2 separate regions of the Homo sapiens genome follow, and region 1 is linked to region 2. The links come from fine-mapping of genetic effects on gene expression. A gene starts in region 2. The other region holds a variant in brackets. All regions are shown on one strand. Distances are between the middles of the regions. Region 1 overlaps COG5 (component of oligomeric golgi complex 5). Region 2 holds the start of HBP1 (HMG-box transcription factor 1).

What was found. PIP is the estimated chance that this variant, and not a neighbour inherited with it, causes the effect.
Region 1: its variant is the best candidate, but not a certain one, in a credible set for the expression of HBP1 in whole blood (INTERVAL, PIP 0.71).

What each region holds. Positions count from the first base shown.
Region 1 is chr7:107,305,317-107,308,232 of GRCh38, reverse strand. All of the region lies in intron 11 of COG5 (component of oligomeric golgi complex 5), which reads left to right. Among named protein-coding and RNA genes, the nearest start is that of HBP1, 140 kb to the right of the region's middle. The variant G/A (reference allele first, on the strand shown) is at 1,555.
Region 2 is chr7:107,167,353-107,170,230 of GRCh38, reverse strand. HBP1 (HMG-box transcription factor 1) reads right to left here and starts at 1,228. Exons shown (of 11, transcript NM_012257.4): 1 at 1,046-1,228. RefSeq lists silencers at 529-748, 1,009-1,108, 1,127-1,700 and an enhancer at 1,419-1,578.

The sequences.
Region 1 (2,916 bases), 140 kb before region 2:
AACACTATTTTAGATTCAACTGATGATTTACAGGAAATACAGGATCAGAGGATGGAATCTGCAAAATCTAGGCTATGGGAAACTCTGTAGGACAAATGTCCCAGTTTCTTAGACAAATAATGAAAAAGAATAAAATGAGAGAACTACAGATTAGGTTGATGATATATCAACTAGTTATAATAGGTGAACTATTTATGGATCCTAAATCAAACAAAGCATTAAAAAATTCCTAACTCAATCAGGCAGATGTCACCACTGATTGTTAATTTTGTAAAGTATAAGAGAACTGTGGCTATGTATTTTTGTGTAATTTTTATTTTTATTTCAATAATTTGTAGGGTTCAGGTGGTTTTTGGTTACATGGATAAGTGTTTTAGTGGTGATTTCAGAGATTTTTGTACACCCATCACCCAAGCAGTGGGTGTACCCAATATGTAGTCTTCTATTCCTCACCCCACTCCCACCCTTCTCCCCCATCATGTCCCTAAAGTCCATTATATCATTCTTATGTCTTTGCATTCATATAGCTTAGCTCCCACTTATAAGTGAGAACATACAATATTTGATTTTCCATTCCTGAGTTACTACACTTAGAATAATGACCTCCTGTGGCTATATAAAGAAAATAGTTCCTACTATTAGATATACTTGTGATTATGAGTGAAATGATAGAATGATATTGGCTCCAAAATAACTGGTAGTGATGGAGGGGCATTGGCCAGGATATAGATAAAAACAAGAGTTGACAAATGCTGAAACTAAGTGATGGATACACAGAGGTTCATTATACTATTCTCTCTACATTATATGTTTGAAACCTATAAAAACAGTGTTTTCAGAATTTTAAGGAAAGCACTTAAGGCAGAGGAAGGAAGTCAGCACAGAAGAATAAAGAAAAATTTAGAGAAGTAGAAAATACAGGAAAGAATGGGGTCATGGACAGTATTTTTCAAAGGAGAGAGTGATCAACAGAAATCAAATGAGAGATCAGAAAAACGCCCACTGTTGTTGGCAATTGGAATGATAGCGTGATTTTCACCAGAATAATTTCAGTGGTGTTGTGGCAGTTGAAAGTCTGGCTGCAGTCTGGAAGAGGCAAGCAAATGTGTGCAGACTGTTATTACAAGGAGCAACAGGACAGTGGCTGCAAATGAATAGTTTATAGAGTTAAGGCGGAGTGTGTTGGCATCTTGTTTGTACTTTTTTATATCATGAGAGAGCATGTTCAGGCATCTTTTATTGATCCTAAGAGGAAGCCAGTAGAAAGTGAGGTGCTAAAAATACAAAAGAAACAAATAATCTTGGAGGAGATGAGTTGGGATGAAACAGAGAACAGAAATTGAGAAATAGGTCTTGGACGTGTGTTCCTGTCAAAGTTGAAGACTAGAAATAGACGGGAAGAAGGTAGAAAATTGAAGAGTTTCTTTCCTAGAAGCCTTTGTTTTTCTGTGAGATAGGAAAGATGGCCATTTTCCTATCACCAGTGGATTGAGGCTTACAGAGTTAGAAGTTTGGAAGAGATTGTGTATGCTTTATATCCCTGTTAAAAAATAA[G/A]GGATTGCAGTACAGAATGCATACCTAGTTGGTATTGGATTCCATAACTTTGTGTTGCTGCCATTATGAGGAGGAGAAACAATAGAAAACCAAAATGTGAGAAATCTCTTAGGGCTATAGACAGATATTTTCATTCATTCCATCCTAATATTTTGTATATAAGACTTGCATTTTAATATCTGTTAATCTTAAATGAGATTTCTCTGAGTTTTACAAAGGTCTGTTTTATTTCTATTCTGGCTTGAGTTTTTCTGAACTATAATTAAAGAAAATTACATTTATTTACAATTAGCTTTAGTTCATATAAATGTTTATTTGCTTCTAAAAATTATTACCCACTTCAGTGGCTAAAGCAGAAAGAATGATGAAAAACATTAACTTGGGGCAAATGACTTAGCTGTGTTTTGTTCTGGTACTCTTATTGTATGTCTGAACTATTTTTAGTGTATTTGGGCATTTTTTTCCAATAATACTCTAGACAATTATATTTTTTATGTAAAACTGATTTTGTTTTGTCATTGTTTTGTATTAGAAAGGATTAATATACTTTACAGTATATAAGTATTTGAAAAGTAGGTGTTTGCAAGTTTGCTGTATGGCCCTTAGTATTTGACTTTTATATAATTCCCATTAATGTGAATGAAATATGATATATTTTATTGTGGCAGAAAGATTCTAAGATCGCCTTCAGTACATCTGTCTACTGGTATTGGCACACTTTTGTAATCTTTTCTTCTTAAATATAGGCAGAACTTGCTTCTAACTTGTACATACAAAGTGCGTATCCCTCCTGTGATTAGGTTGCATACGGTTTTAACCTCCATTTTGCTCTCAGGCGGTCTCTCTATTGCCTTCTTTGCTTGCACATTTTGACGATACAAGCAGCTGTCATACCATTCCACTTGGCAAGAGCCAAGGTCAGCTTCCAGCTAACAGCAAGCTAGAAACTGAGGCTCTCAGCTCACAAGGAACTGAATCCTGCTAACAACCACAAGAGCTTGGAAGCAGATCCTTCCCCAGTTGACTCTTCAGATGAGACTCCACCCATGGTTGATACCTTGATGACAGCCTTGTGAGAGGTCCTGAAGCAGAGGACCAAACTAAGCCATGCCAGGATTCCCAACCCAAAGAAATTATGATATAATATATGTATGTTTTTAAAATAAGCAGTTAATGTTTATGGCAAGTTGTTACATGACAATAGATAACTAGTACATTTATGAAACAAAACATTCAAGACATCCTAAAGGCAATAGATTACTGGCTTCCTTTGCTTTCATAATCTGGGTGATATAGGTGAAGGCCTGGCAGTTGATTGAGAACTGGGCCAGTTAGGAAAAGGAATGAGCAAGAAATGGGTAG
Region 2 (2,878 bases):
GCTTCCCAGTATGTATAACTCCTTTTCTAAGCCTCCTCTCGTCCTGGCATCAGTGGCACCATGAGCCAAAAACAAAACAAACAGAAAACTTGAGTATTACCTCGCTGTCAGTGCTCCTTCTAAAAACGACTGTAGCTGAAAACTCCCTAAGAATGAACTCGAGTGTAGAGTGCACAGCGGAGAGTGAAACACCCTAGACAGCACGCAGCATTTAAAGCTACAAAAACCTGGCTGTCCACTTCGCCTGGTTTGTTTTGTTTTGTTTCAATCGGCCTGCGGTGGCAGCATAGGTTGAAAGGCGGAGACTGGAATCGCCTGCCAAGCCTCCTCTTTGGGTCACACAGAGCGGTGCCTCCCGGTTCACGCCAAGTCCATCCCCCACCCTCTTTCGCCATTCATCGCGTTCCCCTCCCTTCCCCCCATCATGTGACCGCAGCCCGGACTCCGGGCTTGTTTTTCCCCTCGGCTCAGCCCCAGCGCGCAGGCGCCTGGGAGCCCATTCATTCGAACTGCGTAACAATGAGCCCCGGGGCCCAGCGGCTCCGCGAGCTCCTCAGCTCAGCCAGAATCCCCCTCAGTCCAGAAGGAGGCGGCGCCTCACTGGGGTCCCCCACCTCCGGCCAGCCCCCCACCCCTGGCCAAGCTCCGACCCTCCGCCCACAAACGGGGAGTTGAAGTCAAACTTTCCTGGGCAGCCCCGGCGCTGCGTCGGCCCCTTCCCCCGCCCTGGCCCGCCCCATCTCCACACCCGGCCCGGCCACCCACCGCGCGACCTGGCCCGGAACTTCGCCCTCCCCCTGCCTCCTCCCGGCCCCCGCCCGAGACCCCCTAGCGCCGCCGCCCCGAAGCCCAGGTGAGCTCGCGGGAGACGCTGCTCCGGTGGGCTCGCCGCGGGCACCAATCGAACGGTTAACTGCCCCCACCCCAAGGGCAACCCTCCGAGAAGAAGGAACGAGGACCCGAGCCCTCCAGTCTGCCCAATCCCCCGCGCTCCTGCCCCTCCCTTCCCCACCCCCACCTCTTCCCTAACTGAAAGACAACAAACCTGCCGCGAAGTGCCGGCAGCCCAGGCGCGGGCCGCTCCGGCCACGACAACACCACCAGCAGCTCTCGTACCCCCTCTCCGACCGACGTCGGCCTCCCCCGCGCGGGTTACTGCTCCCGCGGCAGCTCTTACTCCTCAACCGAAACTTTCCTACTTACCAAACCCGTCGCCATTACCAAGTCTTTCAAGCTTCGTCTTCCCCCTCCCCTCAACCCCCTGGGGGTTGAGCCCCGCCCAGCTCTTTCGCCCTCTTATTGGACTGCAGAACTGCCATTCGGTTCTTCCCCTTTCCCATTGGGTGGTACCGTGGTCCGTCTCGGGGGGCGGGCATGTATTGACTTTTGTGTTGTGTTTACTGGAGAAGATGGCATGTCAATCACAAGAGTAAGTGCTTCGGATTGGACTATTGCCGAGAGTCCGGGGACCCAAGCCAAACTTTGTCCCCGAAATGGATTGTGGGTTCGTAGTCTCAAGCCTTGGTCCTTGGCTGTGGGAGACTGCTGGCCGGGGAAGAGCTGGACTACGTATCCCAGAGGCGCTCGCACAGCGCAGTCTTGATAGTAAACAAGAGTCATAGGGACACGTGTATCAGCTCGTTTGTTTTGGTGTCTGGGACAAAAGGGAGGGGGCGGAGGAAGGGAGTGTTTTAAAGCTTGGGCCTCTTCTTTTCCTCCGGGCCTCTGCTAACACTTAGAGCGGCCCAAGCCTCTTGCAGCACCCAATCCGGGCCATAAACAGCCAGAGTTGCTCGCTGCTCAAGAGTTTGGCAGGAGGCCAGGGTATTGTTTTAGTGCGAGGGGAAGGAGATGACTGCACCAGCGGAAGTACTGCAGGCTAGCGAGGGACTTGATCACCCACAAATCACGGCCCCAGGCACGAAGGGGTCGAAAGTGATGCTGGGGGCTGCACTGGCAGTGGGAAGAACTAGAAGTCCTTTCTCTTGTGCCTTGCCTCACCACTCCCAGGACAGCAACTTGAGATTGCCTTGTCAGCTCTGTTCAGTTCACCTAAGTTTGTTGAGCCGCCACCTAAGTGCCAGGAAGAGTGAGGCTGGGGGATGGACTGTGAGCAAGCGAGAAGCTGGAGTCTAGAGAATTTACAAAGCGGGGGCGGGGGCGGGCGATTACGAAATTGAGGCAAGTTAAAGCGGCATTTTCCATACTGATTAGTATGCTCGTTGGTTAACGTAATACAAAGGGTGTAATGTATGACGTAAACTGATTTAATTTGTGAATCATTATCAGTAAGTTTCTCTGGTGAGTTTTATTAACCCTCTTTTCCTTCTAGACGTTTTCTCATTGATGAAAGAAACTGTCTTTCCACTTCATTTCCACTAGGAGTTCCTCAAGTTACGAATTCTCTGACTCACCAGAGACGCTTCCCTGCTTTATAGTTAACTTCTCTTTAAACATGGCTGTCCATTCACAGTCGGCTGCATCTAGTCAATAATTGGTGTCTTTACCATTCACATTACAAAGGCATGATTAAGCTTTTTCCCCCCTTTGAACCTTTAGTGTTTAATCATTTAAATTGTGCTTTAGATTTTCTAACTTTAGATCACTAAATATATGCTTAGAATTAAGATGAGGAAAACCTACATTAGTAAGAAATCTGTAAAAGCAAACCTTTGGACAGAGCCAGAAATCACACAGCTAGTTATTTCTTTAAAACCTCCTGCATTTCTTGGATTTTTAAATATACCTGAAAGCCGCGTAACAAATCAAGAAATCCAAAATAAGCCCCCACATGTTGAAATCGAGTTTAAAATTCTTGAGAATTCCCCATTTGAATCCGTGAAGTGAAATTATAAAGTAGTCCTCCCGTGTAATCAAA